Regions from separate parts of the Homo sapiens genome. Here region 1 is linked to region 2. The links come from fine-mapping of genetic effects on gene expression. A gene starts in region 2. The other region holds a variant in brackets. All regions are shown on one strand. Distances are from middle to middle. Region 1 has its middle 20 kb from the start of CCL24. Region 2 holds the start of CCL26 (C-C motif chemokine ligand 26).

Evidence for each region. PIP is the estimated chance that this variant, and not a neighbour inherited with it, causes the effect.
Region 1: its variant is the best candidate, but not a certain one, in a credible set for the expression of CCL26 in tibial nerve (GTEx, PIP 0.85).

What each region holds. Positions count from the first base shown.
Region 1 is chr7:75,789,436-75,797,831 of GRCh38, reverse strand. It overlaps a transcript of CCL26 not described here. Among named protein-coding and RNA genes, the nearest start is that of CCL24, 20 kb to the left of the region's middle. The variant C/G (reference allele first, on the strand shown) is at 3,392.
Region 2 is chr7:75,767,447-75,775,696 of GRCh38, reverse strand. CCL26 (C-C motif chemokine ligand 26) reads left to right here and starts at 3,486. Exons shown (of 3, transcript NM_001371938.1): 1 at 3,486-3,593; 2 at 3,694-3,808; 3 at 5,908-6,159. The coding sequence starts at 3,521. The coding sequence ends at 6,004. RefSeq lists a silencer at 2,672-2,966.

The sequences.
Region 1 (8,396 bases), 22 kb before region 2:
TGACTGTAATCCCAGCACTTTGGGAGGCCGAGGCGGGCGGATCAGTTGAGGCCAGGAGTTTGAGACCAGCCTGGCAAACATGGCAAAACTCTGTCTCTACTAAAAATGCAAAAAATTGCCACATGTGGTGGCATATTCCTGTAGTCCCAGCTACTCGGGAGGCTGAGGCAAGAGAACTGTCTGAACCTTGGAGGCGGAGGTTCCAGTGAGCTGAGATGGTGCCACTGCACTCCAGCCTGGGCGACAGTGTGAGACTCTGTCTCAGAAAAATCAAACAAAAAAAAAGCGAGCCTATCTCTAAGAAAACAAAAGAACTTATGGAAGTTTCCTTCTTCTTTTTTTTTTTTTTTTGAGATGGAGTCTCGCTCTGTCGCCTAGGCTGGAGTGCAGTGGTGGTGAACTCAGCTCACTGCAACCTCTGCCTCCCAGGTTCAAGCGATTCTCCTGCCTCAGCCTCCTGAGTAGCTGGGACTACAGGCGCCCACCACCATGCCTGGCTAATTTTTTTTGTATTTTTAGTAGAGACGGGGTTTCACCGTGTTAGCCAGGATGGTCTCGATCTCCTGACCTTGTGATCTGCCCGCCTTGGCCTCCCAAAGTGCTGGGATTACAGGTGTGAGCCACCGCGCCTGGACTGTTTTGTTTTGTTTTGTTTTTGAGACCAAGTCTCCCTCTGTTGCCCAGACTGGAGCGCAGTGGCACGATCTCGGCTCACTGCAACCTCTGCCTCCTGGGTTCAAGCAATTCCCGTGCCTCAGCCTTCCCAGTAGCTGGGATTACAGGCACATGCCACCATGCCCAGCGGATTTTTTAGTAGAGATGGGTTTTCACCGTGTTGCCCAGGCTGGTCTCAAACTCTTGAGCTTGGGCTATCCACCCAACTGGGCCTCCCAAAGTGCTAGAAATACGGGCGCGCCCGGCCAGAAGTTTCCTTCTTAGAAAGCTGTACGTGGCCCTGTGTGATGGCTCGTGCCTGGTATCCTAGCACTTTGGGAGGACAAGGTGGGAAGATGCTTTGAGCCCAGGAGTTTGAGACCAGCCTGGGCAACACAGGGAGACCCCCATGTCTAGAAAATTAAAAATAAAAAAAAAAATTATCAGGACATAGTGATGTGTGCCTGTGGTCCCAGCTACTTAGGAGGTTGAGGCAGGAGGATCGCTAGAGTTCAGGAGTTGGAGGCTGCAGCGAGCTGTGATTGCATCACTGTACTCCAACCTGGACAACAGATCAAGACCGTGTCTCATCAAAAGAAAGGTGGTCATTTGGGTCTTCCAGTCGCTTATTCTGCCTGAGATACAGGCAAGATTTAGAGGAAATTATTCTGTTACTGACCGTAGCTGAGTAGGGGAGACTAATACTCCCCGAATGCTCAGTGTAAGCAGGCCAGCAAGAGGACCCCAGACCCCTCCTCCCGTGGCTCCTACTAAATCCCACCTTCTGCCTTTTGCCACTAGTTTTTTTTTGAGACGGAGTGTCACTCTGTTGTCCAGGTTGGAGTGCTTTTCAGCCTCTAAAAAGGCATTCCCTGGAAGTCTCTCTCTCCCCAGCCTTCTAACTTCTGAATAATCTCAAGCCCAAAGGAACATTCAGTTCTTGCTATGGGTCATGCCCGGTCACGACCTTGCTTGGGGAAACATCTCTCAAGACTCAGAATGGGGAAGAGCTGCGCTTCTCCCAAGCAACTGGCAGTTCGTTGTTATGTTCTCGAAGCTGGTGGGATGGGCTGCATTTCCCTTTTTTTATTGGCCAATTGAAAGTTTGGAAGGGAATTTGCTGACTTTTGCTAACCCGCAGATGCCTCCCCTTATCTATCTAGCTGCTATTTGCCCTTGGCTCTGATATGGTCCTGTAACTACAGAGTAGTTTTAGCTTCGGGACAAAGCCTGGCGGAAGCCACCCTGAAGGTTCATTCTCAGCGTTAAGGGTTGGGGGGTAGGACTCTGAGACTGTCAGAGGCAGGACAAGGCACAGGCATGACACAGACCCAGCTCTGAGCCTTGGTTCTGCCATCCATGAGTTTTGTGGCCTTGAACAAACCACAGTTTTCTAGGCTGTAAAAGGGGATAAGAAAACCTCCCTAGGCCGGGTGTCATGGCTCATGCCTGTAATCCCAGCACTTTTGGGGGCCGAGGCAGGTGGATCACTTGAGGTCAGGAGTTCGAGACCAGCCTGGGCAATATGGTGAAACCCTGTCTCTACTAAAAGTACAAAACTTAGCCAGGCGTGGTAGTGCATGCCTATAGTCCCAGCTACTTGGGAGGCTGAGGCAGGAGAATCGCTTGAACCGAGGAGCTGGAGGCTGCAGTGAGCCGAGATTGCACCACTGCACTCCAGCCTGGGTGACAGAGGGAGACCCTGTTTCAAAAAAAAAAAAAAGAAAGAGAAAAAAAGAAAGAAGAAGGCAAGAGAGCAAGAAAGAAAGATAGAAAGAAGAAAGCAAGAGATCAAGAAAGAAAGAAAGAAGAAAGCAAGAGATCAAGAAACAAAGATAGAAAAAGAAAGAGAGAAAGAAAGAAAGAAGGAAGGAAGGAAGGAAAGAGAGAGAAAGAAAGAAGGAAAGAAAGAAAGAAAGAGAAATAAAGAAACCACTCTCCTAGAACCGCTTTCAGGGTAAATGGATTAACTGGTAACAAACAAAAAAGTTTGTTTTTCTTCCAACTCCAGGAGATACGGTTTTTTAGTTGTTTGTTTGTTTGAGACAGGGTCTCACTCCGTCACCCAGGCTGGAGTGCAGTGGTGTGATCGTGTCTCACTGCAACTTCAACCTCCTGGCCTCAAGCGATCCTCTCACCTCAGGCTCCCCAAGTAGCTGGGACTACAGACATGTGCCACCATGCCCAGCTGATTTTTAAGATTTTGTAGAGACAGGGTTCCACTATATTGCCCAGGCTAGTGTTGAACTCCTGGGCTCAAGTAATCCTCCTGCCTCAGCCTCCCAAAGTGCTGGGATTACAGGTGTGAGCCACGGCGCCCGGCCGAAACATGTTTTTATTCTCCTGATTCGGCTTGGTCTCTGTTGCACACAAGCCAGGATGCTGCTTCCTCCAGGAAGAGCTTCCCAGGGCTGGGGAACCCCTCCTAACACACTGTGCCTCCTCTGGCTCCCCTCACTAGCTCCCCATGTGTAGGTCTCACTGGGACAGCAGACAAGGGAGTTTCTTTACATCCACTCCTTACTTCTCTCTTTTTTTTTTTCCTTTTTTCTTCTTCTTTTTTTTTTGTTTGAGATAGAGTCTTGCTCTGTTGCCCACGCTGGAGTGCAGTGGTGCGATCTCGGCTCACTGCAACCTCCGCCTCTCAGGTTCAAGCAATTCTCCTGCCTCAGCCTCCCAAGTAGGTGGGATTACAGGCACGTGCCACCACACCTGGCTAATTTTTGTATTTTTAGTA[C/G]AGACAAGTTTCACCATGTTGGCCAGCCTGGTCTCAAACTCCTGACCTCAAGGGATCCACCCACCTCAGCCTCCCAAAGTGCTGGGATTACAGGTGTGAGCCACTGCACGCGGTCTCTCTTTCTCTTTCTCTCCCTTCCTTCCTTCCTTCCTTCCTTTCTCTTTCTCTCTTATTTCTCTCTCTCTCTCTTTTTCTTTCTTTCTTTTTTTTATTGACAGAGTCTCACTATGTCGCCCAGGCTGGAGTGCAGTGGCACAATCTTGGCTCACTGCATTCTCTGCCTGCTGGGTTCAAGAGATTCTCCTGCCTCAGCCTCCCGAGTAGCTGGGATTACAGGTGGGCACCACCACGCCCAGTTAATTTTTTTATTTTTAGTAGAGACAGGGTTTCACCATATTACCCAGGCTGGGCTCGACTCCTGACTTCAAGTGATCTGCCCACCTAGGCCCTCCAAAATGCTGGGATTACAGGTGTTACCCACCTCACCTGGCCCGCTTTCTTTTCTTTCTTTCTTTTTCTTTATTTCTTTCTGTCTTTCTTTTCTTTTCTTTTCTTTTCTTTCTTTCTTTCTTTCTCTCTCTCTCCCTCCCTCCCTTCCTCCCTTCCTTCCTTTCTTCTTCCTTTCTTCCTTCCCCTTCCTTCCTCCCCTTCCCCTTCCCCTCCCTCTCTCCCTCTCTCTCTCTCTCTCTCTTTCTTTCTCTCTTTGTTCTTTCTCCACTTATGCTCAAATTCTATACTCACCTTTCTTAAGGACAGGGATGGTGTCCTGTCCACCACGGTGTCTCCAGAGCCTTGGACATTGCTGGGGCTGTAAGAATTCAGCAAACATTTGGCTGGATGCAGTGACTTATGCCTGTAATCCCAGCACTGTGGGAGGCTGAGGTGGCCAGCTCACTTGAGGTCAGCAGTTTGACACCAGTCTGGTCAACATGGTGAAACCATATCTCTACTAAAAATACAAAAATTAGCTGGATGTGGTGGTGCGCACCTATAGTCCCAGCTACTCGGGAGGCTGAGGCAGGAGAATTGCTTGAACCCAGGAGGTGGAGGTTGCAGTGAGCCGACCTGCACTCCAACCTGACAGAGCGAGACTCCATCTCAAAAAAAAGAAAAAAAGAACGAGCAAACATTTGCCACATAAATACATTCCAGAACCCTGTGCTGAAGGGTTATGGAGACAAAAGGAGGCTTCATGCTGGGCCTCCACATCCCTCTGTCCCTCTCTAGTATTGTGTCCTTACAGCAGCCAGACTCATCTTTATCAATGAGTCCTCTCATCGTGTGACTCCCCTGCTTAAAACTCCTTACTGTTGGCCGGGCCCGGTGGCCCATGCCTGTAATTCCAGCACTTTGGGAGGCCAAGGCAGGCAGATCACTTGAAGTCAGGAGTTCCAGACCAGCCTGGCCAACATGGTGAAACCCCATCTCTACTAAAAATACAAAAATTAGCCGGGCATGGTGGTGGGCACCTATAGTCCCAGCTACTTGGGAGGCTGAGACAGGAGAATTGCTTAAAGCCGGGAGGCAGAGGTTGCAGTGATCCAAGATCGCACCATTGCACTCTAGCCTGGGTGACAGAGCAAGACTCCATCTAAAAAAAAAAAAAACAAAAAACAAAACAAAACCTCTTTACTCTCTCCCTGTTACACTTATTTATTTATTTATTTATTTATTTATTTATTTATTTATTTATTTATTTGAGATAGGGGTCTTGCTCTGTTGCTCAGGCTGGAGTGCAGTGGTGTGACCACAGCTCACTGCAGCCTTGAACTCCTGGGCTCCAGCAATCCTCCTGCCTCGGCCTCCCAAGTAGCTGGCACTACAGGCATGTGCCACCACGCCCGGCTAATTTTTGTATTTTATGTAGAGATAGGGTCTCACTACATTGCCCAGACTGATTTCAAACTCCTGGGCTCAAGGGAGCCTCCCGCTTGAGCCTCTTGAGTAGCTGGGACTACAGGCGTGCGCCACTATGTCTGGCTAATTTTTATTTTTTATAGAGATGGGATCTCACTATGTTGACCAGGCTGGTCTTGAACTTCTGGGCTGAAGCAATCCTCCCACCTGGGAGTGCTGGGATTACAGGCATGAGTCACCCATGCCTGGTGGCTTCTTTTCTTATAAGGACACCTGTCATATTGGATCAGAGTCCCATCCTTATGACCTCATTAAAACTTACAGCCAGGCATGGCGGCTCACGCCTGTAATCCCAGCACTTTGGGAGGCCGAAGTGGGTGGATCACCTGAGGTCAGGAGTTTGAGACCAGCCTGGCCAACGCGGTGAAACCCCATCTCTGCTAAAAATACAGAAAGTATCTGGGTGTGGTGGCGCATGCCTGTAGTCCCAGCTACTCGGGAGACTGAGGTAAGAGGATTGCTTGAGCCAGAGGAGGCAGAGGCTGCAGTGAGCTGAAATCGTGGGTAACATGCCTGGGTAACACAGCAAGACTCTGTCTCTAAATAAATAAATAAAAATAAAAACAAAGTAGCCAGGTGTGGTGGTGCATGCCTGTGGTCCCAGCTGCTTGGGAGGGTGAGGTGGGAGAATCACTTGAGCTTGGGGAGGTGGAGGCTGCCGTGAGCTGTGATCACACCTCTGCACTCCAGCGTCGGTGACAGAGTGAGACCCTGTCTCAAAACAAAAAAAGGATGGAAAAAAAACCTTACTTACTTGTTGAACTTCTGGGCTGAAGCAATCCTCCCGCCTGGGAGTGCTGGGATTACAGGCATGAGTCACCCAGGCCTGGCTTCTTTTCTTATAAGGACATCTGTCATGTTGGATCAGAGTCCCATCCTTATGACCTCATTAAAACTTACAGCCTGGCACAGCAGCTCACGCCTGTAATCCCAGCACTTTGAGAGGCCGAGAAGTGGGAAGCCCAGATGGCAGCCTAGACCCTGGGAACCACAGCAGATGGGGGCTCCTGGGAGATCCACACAGAGGAATCTGGAGCCCAGGAAGCAACCTGGAGGGTACAGGGAAGGGGCTTCAGCCACAGGGAAGGGCCTGGAGGGAAGAGAGCAGGAGCCAGGGCCGCCAGCTATGGGCTGACATCAAGGGCATACTCAAGGTCCTGACTGAGGGGGCCTCGGACACAAGTACCAAGAGGGAGTTTCAGCCAGGCGTGGTGGCTCACACCTGTAATCCCAGCCCTTTGGGAGCTGAGGCGGGTGGATCACGAGGCCAGGAGTTTGAGACCAGCCTGGCCAACATGACAAAACCTTGTCTCTACTAAAAATACAAAAATTAGCCAGGTGTGGTGGCGGGTGCCTGTAATCCCAGCTACTCGGGAGGCTGAGGCAGGAGAATTGCTTGAACCCGGGAGGCAGAAGTTGCAGTGAGCCGAGATCGTGCCATTGCACTCCAGCCTGCGTGACAAGAGCAAGACTCTGTCTCAAAAAGAAAAAAAGAAAAAAAAAAAAAAAAGGAGGAGTTTCAGCAGAAGCCATTTATAGACAGACATGCCTCTTGGGTGAAGGGACTCAAATTTTTTTTTTTTTGAAATGGAGTCTCTATCGCCCAGGCCGGAGTGCAGTGGCGTAATCTTGGCTCACTGCAAACTCCACCTTCCAAACTCAAGCTATTCTCCTGCCTCAGCCTCCCGAGTAGCTGAGACTACAGGCACTCACTATCACACCTGGCTAATTTTTGTATTTTTAATAGAGACGGGATTTCACCACATTGGCCAGGTTGGTCTTGAACTCCTGACCTCCAGTGATCTGCCTGCCTCGGCCTCCCACAGTGCTGGGATTACTGGTGTGAGCCACCATGTCCAGCCTCAAATGTTTTATAAACAGGGTATAATCACTTACCCATACAGGAGGAAAGCTGATAAATAAAACTATATTAAAATCCATTAGAAGACATCCATAAGAGGCCAGGCACAGCAGCTCCTGCCTGTAATCCTAGCACTTTGGGAGGCTGAGGTGGGAGGATCACTTAAGTCCAGGAGATTGAGGCCAGGAATTCAAGACCAGCCTGGGCAACACAGCAAGACCCCATCTCTACAATTTTTTTTTTAAGTTAGCAGAACATGGTGGTGCATGCCTGTAGTTCCAGCTACTCAGAAGGCTGAGGTGGGAGGACTGCTTGAGCCCAGGATCTTGAGGTTGCAGGGAGCTATGATTGCACCACTGCAAAGAAAAGAAAAAGAAAAGAAAGAGAGAGAAAGAGGTATGGAGGGAGGGAGGGAGGGAGGATGGAAGGAAGGAAGGAAGGAAGAAAGAAAGAAAGAAAGAAAGAAAGAAAGAAAGAAAGAAAGGAAGGAAGGAAGGAAGGAAGGGAGAGAGACAGAAAGAGAGAGAGAGAAAGAAAGAAAGAAAAAGAAAGAGAAAAGGAGGGAGAGAGCTGGGGAAGAAGGAAGAAAAGAAGGGAAAGAAAGAAAGAGAGGTAGGGAGGAATGGAGGGAAGGAAGGAAGGAAGGGAGGGAGGGAGGGAGGGAGAACCGTAAGACGTAGAAAGGCAATCTGTGGGATGGGAGATTATTTCTGCAATACATCTGTACTGGGTTGAATAATATACCCCAAGAATTCATTGTCCACCCAGAACCTCAGAAATGTGAGTTATTTGGGAATGGCTGTTTGTAAATGTCCTTACGTAAGCCAAGAGGAGGTCTTGACTTGGGGTCCCAGGGGTACCGCAGATCCCAGGGACTGGAGCAGCACTAGCAAGCTCTGGAGGATGAGCCAGGAGTCTGGAATTGAGGCTGAGCCAAAGACCCCAGGTAAGGGTCAGGGACTTTGTTTCTGGGAACCTGCCAGGTTGGGGTTTGGAAGGAAGTAATGGGCCTTGTTTGGTGGTGGGGAGGGGGGCAAAGTGTGGGGGTTTCTCATTGCAGAAGAGAATTTTCAGAGGATAGACTCCATTGCCAAAGGCAGGGAAAGGCAGAAGTATGGAAAACAGCTGGGGTCTGACATGCTGTAGGCAGCCAGCACTTTCTCTTGAAATGAGAAACATTCTGGCAAAAAAAAAAAAAAAAGAGAAAAAGAGAAATGGATGTTCCCA
Region 2 (8,250 bases):
GGCCTTGTTCCTGGTCACAGAGAACCCTCAGTTTGATCATAACACAAGCCAGGAGTGTAGGGTGCAGCCCTCAACCAGTGACAGCAGGGAACTGGGGGGTACCTGACCCACCCGCTAAGCCAGCTCTGAGGTCTGCCCTGCACAGGCTCCCAGAACTCCTTGGCTGCTCACGCCATGCCCTGCTTAATAACTCCCCTTGCGTTGCTGCCTCTGCTTCCTTGCCTCAGTTTCCCCCTCCTCTCCTGGGGCTCCCGTGGAATCACCTCCCAAATAAAGGACTTGCACCAGAATCCTTGTCTCAGGGCCTGCTGGAGGAACTGAAATAAAAACAACGATCTTCAAATCTGCCTAAGCCTCAATTTCCTTTATCTTCCAAAATAAAAGACAAGTTAAGCATTTTTGTAAAGAACAGGGTCAATAGGTAGAAGAAATGGGAATATAGATTTCAGTCAAAAAAGAATTTGTTTTTTTTCCTTCTGAAATGGAGTCTCGCCCTGTTGCCCAGGCTGGAGTGCAGTGGCGTGATCTCAGCTCACTGCAACCTCTGCCTCCCGGTTCAAGCAATACTCCTGCCTCATCCTCCCAAGTAGCTGGGATTACAGACACGCGACACCATGCTCAGCTAATTTTTGTATTTTTGGTAGAGACGGAGTTTCACCATGTTGGCCAGACTCATCTTGAACTCCTGACCTCAAGGTATCCACCCCCATCAGCCTACCAAAGTGCTGGCATTACAGGGGTGAGCCACCGGGCCCGACCAATAATTCTTTTTTTAAAGAGACAGAGTCTTGCTCGGTCACCTAGGCTGGAGTGCAGTGGCATGATCATAGTTCACTGCAGCCTTGAACTCCTGGGCTCAAGTGACCCTCCTGCCTCGGCCTCCTGAGTAGCTGGGCCTACAGGTGCACATGCCACCATACTCAGTTAATTTTTATTTAATTAAAAAAAATAGGCCGGGTGGGGTGGCTCACACCTGCAATTTCAGCACTTTGGGAGGCTGAGGCGGGCAGATCAGTTGAGGTCAGGAATTCGAGACCAGCCTGGGCAACATAGTGAAACCCTGTCTCTACTAAAAATACAAAAATTACCCGGGCATGGTGGTGCATGCCTGTAATCCTAGCTACTCAGAGGCTGAGGCAGAAGAATCATTCGAACCCAGGAGGTGGAGGCTGCAGTGAGCTAAGATTGTGCCACTGTACTCCAGCCTGGATGACAGAGCAAGACTCTGTCTCAAAAAAACAAACAAACAGCTGGGCATGGCGGTTTATGCCTGTAATCCCAGCACTTTGGGAGGCTGAGGCAGGTGGATCACTTGAGGTCAGGAGTTCGAGACAAGACTGACCAACATGGTGAAACACCATCTCTACTAAAAATACAAAATTAGCCGGGCGTGATGGCGCATGCCTGTAATCCCAGCTACTTGGGAGGCTGAGTCACGAGAATTGCTTGAGCCTGGGAGGCAGAGGTTGCAGTGAGCCGAGATTGTGCCATAGCACTCCAGCGTATGCAACAGGAGCAAAACTCCATCTCAATAAAAACAAAAACAAAAACAAACCACCCTCTCATGATCATCCAGACTGTTGTGCCTGGTTTGAGTGACAGGCAACTCACCATCTATCCTCTTCCCACCTACAACAGCTCTGACTATCACAAACTTCTGTTAAGTTCTTTTAAAAATTTGGCTGAAGCCAGGTGTGGTGGCTCTCCCCTATAATCCCAGTGCTTTGGGAGGCTGGAGTAAGCAGATCGCCTTGAAGCCAGGAGTTTGAGACCAGCCTGGCAACCTTTGGGCTCTACAAATTTCTTTTTTTTTGTGACAGAGTTTTGCTCTTTTTTCTTAGGCTGGAGTGCAATGGCACGATCTTGGCTCACTGCAACCTCTGCCCCCCAGGTTCAAGTGACTCTCCTGCCTCAGCCTCCCAAGTTGCTCGGATTACAAGCATGAGCCACCACAAAATTAGCCCGGCTAATTTTTGTATTTTTAGTAGAGACGGGGTTTCACCATGTTCGCCAGGCTGATCTCAACCTCCTGACCTCAGACGATCCCCCTGCCTCTGCCTTCCAAAGTGCTGGGATTACAGGCGTGAGCCACTGTGACTGGCCCCACACACACACACAAAATAATAATAATAATTGACCAGGTATGGCCAGACGTGGTGGCTCACTGTAATCCCAACATTTTTGAAGGCCAAGGTGAGACAGTCACTTGAGCCAAGAGTTTAAGACCAACCTGGGCCACATAGAGAGACCTCATCTCTATTTTTTTTTCTTTTTTGAGACAGTCTTGGTCTGTCGCCCAGGCTGGAGTGCAATGGCGGGATCTCGGCTCACTGTAACCTCTGCCTCCTGCATTCAAGCGATTCTCCTGCCTCAGCCTCCCTAGTAGCTGGGATTACAGGTGCCCGCCACCGTGCCTGGCTAATTTTTTTATTTCTAGTGGGGACGGGGTTTCACCATGTTGACCAGGCCCTCTCTCTCACTATATATATATATTATTTGTTGTTGTTTGTTTGTTTTGTTTTGTTTTAAGCCTCGGGTGATTGTGATGATCTGTCAGGTTTGGGATCTGTTAGATCTCTCAAATGCCCCCAGCCAGCCCTGGCCCTACAGGTGTGGCCCCAAGAAGATGGGCTGGCACCTGCCTGGACCCTGTTTTTAAATATCCATTGTCGAGGTTGGGCTACTCTATGATCACATCTTGAGACCATCCAGAGCTCCACACAGAGATAAGCAATGCTTAGAAAGGAAACAAAACTTTGCCCAAGAGCCAGAAACCTATCTTCAACAACCAATTGTGCTATAAAGTAACTTAGTTCAGTTCACTGGAATATTACTTAATTTCCTCTGCTTTTTCTTTTTAAACAAGAAAGTGTTGACTCAGCCAACAGCACTGGGAACCAGACTCCCTGGGGCCTGCCTGCCCCTGCTCTTCTCCCAAATTCTCTTCTTTTTTTGTCCCTGTTGATGGAATTCAATAAAGGGATCTCTACCATCTGTCACTTGTTTTTTTTTGTTGTTTGTTTGTTTGTTTTTTTTTTTTTTGGCAGAGTCTCACTCTGTCGCCCAGGCTGCAGTGCAGTGGTGCCATCTCAGCTCACTGCAACCTCCACCTCCCAGGTTCAAGTGATTCTCCTGCCTCACCCTCAGGAGTAGCTGGGATTACAGTTGCCTGCCACCATGCCCGGCCAATTTTTGTGTTTTTAGTAGAGACAGGGTTTCTCCATGTTGGCCAGGCTGATCTTGAACTCCTGACCTCAAGGGATCCGCCCACCTCGGTCTCCCAGAGTGCTGTGATCACAGGCATGAGCCACCACGCCCAGTGCCAGATTATCTTTCTTCACTGTCTAATTTCATTCCTATGAGTATTAGTTTACTTTTCCTTTGTTGGGTCAAAAGTGCTGCTTCTGTTCCCAACCACAGAATTCTCTGGAATTGTTTTCAGGGCCGTCTCAGTCTCATAAAAGGGGATCAGGCAGGAGGAGTTTGGGAGAAACCTGAGAAGGGCCTGATTTGCAGCATCATGATGGGCCTCTCCTTGGCCTCTGCTGTGCTCCTGGCCTCCCTCCTGAGTCTCCACCTTGGAACTGCCACACGTACGTAGCTGGCCCATTCCCCTCCTGGGGTTCCTTCCCGGACCGCCTGGGAGTGGATGGAAATGAGTATCTCCAAACCCTTCCTCTCCCTGATTTTTAGGTGGGAGTGACATATCCAAGACCTGCTGCTTCCAATACAGCCACAAGCCCCTTCCCTGGACCTGGGTGCGAAGCTATGAATTCACCAGTAACAGCTGCTCCCAGCGGGCTGTGATGTGAGTATTTCTCGGACGTACTTTCTGGGGCCCCATCAGTCATGCAACAGGATGGGTGCTGGGCAGACCCCCAGGATGAGCCTTGGGATGGGAACCTGGAAACCCCACCTCTGCACACTAACAAGTGTGACTCTGAGCTTCAGGTAGAACCTGACTTTTTTTTTCTCTTTTTGAGACGGAGTTTCTTTCTTGTTGCCCAGGCTAGAGTGCAATGGCACGATCTTGGCTCACTGCAACCTCCCCCTCCCGGGTTCAAGCAATTTTCCTGCCTCAGCCTCCCAAGTAGCTGGAATTACAGGCACATGCCACCATGCTCAGCTAATTTTTGTGTTATTAGTAGAATTTCACCATGGTTGGCCAGGCTGGTCTTAAACTTCTGAGCTCATGTGATTTGCCCGCCTCAGCCTCCCAAAATGCTGGGATTACAAGTGTGAGTCACTGGACCCAGCCAATCCCCACTTTTAATAAACTCACAGTGAAGTAAGAGCTCAGGAATCATCAGCTATGATGAATAACCTTGAAAATGTGGCTAACAATTAAATGACATGTTGAGTGCAGGGTTCCTTTCTGGGGTGATGAAAATATCCTAAAATTGATTGTGGTGATGGTTGCATAATCTATGACTATACTAAAAACCATTGAATTATAATTATAGCCTTTAAATTGGTGGAGTTGTACATGGTGGGGAGGTTTAGACGATCGCTTGAGCCCAGGAGTTCAAGGCTGCAGTGAGGTATGATCGCACCACTGCACTCCAGCCTGGGTAACACAGAGAGACTTCATCCCTAACAAAAGAGAAAAAAAAGAGTGAATTACAGTTATCCCCCAGTAACCACAGGGGATTGGTGCCAGGATTTTGGCATACAATTTCCCCTGAATTTATGCAGCTTTTGCATCACCGAGTTTTGTATTTTCTATCCTCCTTTGGTTGGCAAAAGGCTGCCTATGAGTGGGCCCACAGAGTTCAAATCCGTGTTGTTCAAGAGTCAACTGTATGTGCCGTGTGAATTATATCCCAACAAAGCTGTTCTATTACAATGAAAGAATCAGCCAGGTGAGGTGGCGCAGGCCTGTAAGCCCAGTTACTCCGGAGGCTGAGGCAGGAGAATCGCTTGAACCCGGGAGGCGGAGTTTGCAGGAGTAGAGATCGCGCCACTGCACTCCAGCCTGGGTGACAAGAGAGAAACTGTTTCAAAAAAAATAAAATAGGCCGGGCGTGGTGGCTCACGCCTGTAATCCCAGCACTTTGGGAGGCTGAGGTGGGCAGATCTCCTGAGGTTGGGAGTTCGAGACCAGCCTGACCAACGTGGAGAAACCCTGTCTCTACTAAAAATACAAAATTAGCTGGACGTGGTGGCGCATGCCTGTAATCCCAGCTACTTGGGAGGCTGAGGCGGAAGAATCACTTGAACCTGGGAGGCAGAGGTTGTGGTGAGCCGAGATCGCGCCATTGCACTCCAGCCTGGGCAACAAGAGTGAAACTCCGTCTCAAAAAAAATAAAAAATAAAACAAAATAAAGGCTAGGCGTGGTGGCTCACACCTGTTATCCCAGCACTTTGGGAGGCCAACACAGGCGGATCACCTGAGGTCAGGAGTTCGAGACCACCCTGGCCAACATGGCAAAACCTTGTCTCTATTAAAAACACAGAAATTCGCTGGGTGTGCTGATGCGTGCCTATAATCCCAGCTACTTGGGAGTCTGAGGCAGGAGCATCACTTGAACCTGGGAAATGGAGGTTGCAATGAGCTGAGATCATGCCATTGCACTCCAATGTGGGCAACAGAGTGAGAGTTCGTCTCAAAAAAAAAAAAAAAAAATTAAGTGTCCTGGTGCAGGTTACATGCTGCAGGCTAGAACTGGTGGAAAACGGTAAATGGTACCTGGTAGAGGTGGGTCTGGAGGCATAGTTTCCAGTGGAAATCAAGATAGGAAAGAGGAGGGAGACAAGGCCCAGGAGAAGAGGGGACAGGGACAGAGAGCAACAAGTTTGTGGCAAGGCCAGAAGACTAGTGAGAGAGCTGCCCCTCCTTCCCTTTCTATCCCACCCCAGGAGGCAAAGAGTCTCAATATTGACTTATCCGTGTCTCTTTTTCACAGATTCACTACCAAAAGAGGCAAGAAAGTCTGTACCCATCCAAGGAAAAAATGGGTGCAAAAATACATTTCTTTACTGAAAACTCCGAAACAATTGTGACTCAGCTGAATTTTCATCCGAGGACGCTTGGACCCCGCTCTTGGCTCTGCAGCCCTCTGGGGAGCCTGCGGAATCTTTTCTGAAGGCTACATGGACCCGCTGGGGAGGAGAGGGTGTTTCCTCCCAGAGTTACTTTAATAAAGGTTGTTCATAGAGTTGACTTGTTCATAACATTTTTTGTCCATAAAACCCGAGTTTTCTTTAAGGAAAGAAAATTGATTCAATATGGATGGCTGGTTGCCTGGGAGGTCCCCAACCCCCGGGCAGACCCCGATACGGAATTCTGCCGTGGGTTTTTGTTTGTTTGTGCAAAAAAAAGCAAGGGTAATTTTAATACACTTTGGTAAAATGCTTGGTGAATTTTTTAACATTATTTAGAGAAAAAAGTTTAGTTTATTTGGAAAAGTAAGTTCTGTGCAACACCTCACAGCCTGTCAGTGCCGTGTAAATGTAGTAGCTCCGTGTTTGGCAGCGCTTTCTCTTAAGAAAGCAAGACACTAATTAGTTAATGTGAATATTATCTACCTACCAAACTGCGGGTGCGTTGTCTATATAGCTTAAATAAGCTTTTTACAAAAATAATCAGCCGGGTGCAGTGGTTCACGGCTGTAATCCCAGCACTCTGGGAGGCTGAGGTGGGAGGATCACTTGAGCCCAGGAGTTTGAGATCAGCCTGGGCAACATAGTGGCACCCATCACTACAAAAAAATTTAACAGTTACTCAGACGTGGTGGTGGGTGCCTGTAGTCACAGCTACTTGGGAGGCTGAGGTGGGAGGATTGCTTGAGTCTAGGAGGTCGAGGATACAGTGAGCCATGATCACACCACTGCACTCCAGTCTGAGCAACAGAGCAAGACCCTGTCTCAAATAATAATAATAATAATAATAAAGACTAACCTGGGCACCACAGTGAAACCCTGTCTCTACAAAAACACAAAAAATTAGCCAGGTGGGGTGGCACACACCTGTGGTCCCAGCTACTCAGGAGGCTGAGGCAGGAGGATTACTTGAGGCCAGGAGTTAGAGGTTGCAATGGGCCAAGATCACACCACTGCACTCCAGCCTGGGTGACAGATCAAGCCCCTGTCTCAAAAATATTTTTTTAATAAAAAATAAAAAGTCCGGGCACAGTGGCTCATGCCTGTAATCCAAACACTTTGGGAGGCCGAGGCAGGTGGATCATGAGGTCAGGAGATTGAGACCATCCTGGCTAACACAGTGAAACCCCATCTCTACTAAAAATACAAAAAATTAGCAGGGCGTGGTGGCGGGTGCCTGTAGTCCCAGCTACTCAGGAGGCTGAGGCAGGAGAATGGTGTGAACCTGGGAGGCGGAGCTTGCAGTGAGCAGAGATCGCGCCACTGCACTCCAGCCTGGGCGACAGAGCGAGACTCCATCTCAAAATAAATAAATAAATAAATAAATAAATAAATAAATAAAATAATAATTATTATTATTTTTGCCATTTCTTGCAACTTTTTGTGAATCTATAATTATTGTTTATAGTTATTAATTATTAATATCTATAATTGTTATAGATTTACAAGAAGTTGCAAAAATGGTATGGGGAGGTCAGGTGTATCTTTTTTATTATTGAGACAGAGTCTTGCTCTGTCACCCAGACTGGAGTGCAGTGGCATAATTACAGCTCCCTATAGCCTCTACCTCCCTGAGTTCAGGTGACCCTCCCACCTCAGCCTCCCAAGTAGGTAGGACTACAGGCATGGTCCACCACACCCGGCTAACTTTTGTATTTTGGCAGAGACAGGGTTTCACCATGTTGCCCAGGCTGGTCTCAAATTCTTGGGCTCAAACCATCTGCCCACCTCAGCCTCCCAAAGCACTGGGATTACAGGTGTGAGCCACCGTGCCCAGCCCCCAAATCTATCTTTTATTTAGTTTACCCCAATGGCTACAGCTTACATAATTATAATGCAATATCAAACCCAGGAAATTGACATTGGTATAAAGCGTGTGCATAGTTCTGTCATACTGTCGTTTTATCACGTGTATAGATTTACATTATAGCAACTGAGATCCCGATCTATTCCAACGTCACGGAGATCTCCCTCCATTCACCCCTTGACAATCACACCTCCCATCCACCACCATCTTTAGCTCCTGGCAACCATCATCCTACTCTTTGGTATTATGAATTTGACTTTTTAGATGCTATGTAGGTAGTAAGTGAGATCAGGCAGTATTTGTCTTTCTGCGTCTGGCTTATTTCACTTTGCATAATGTC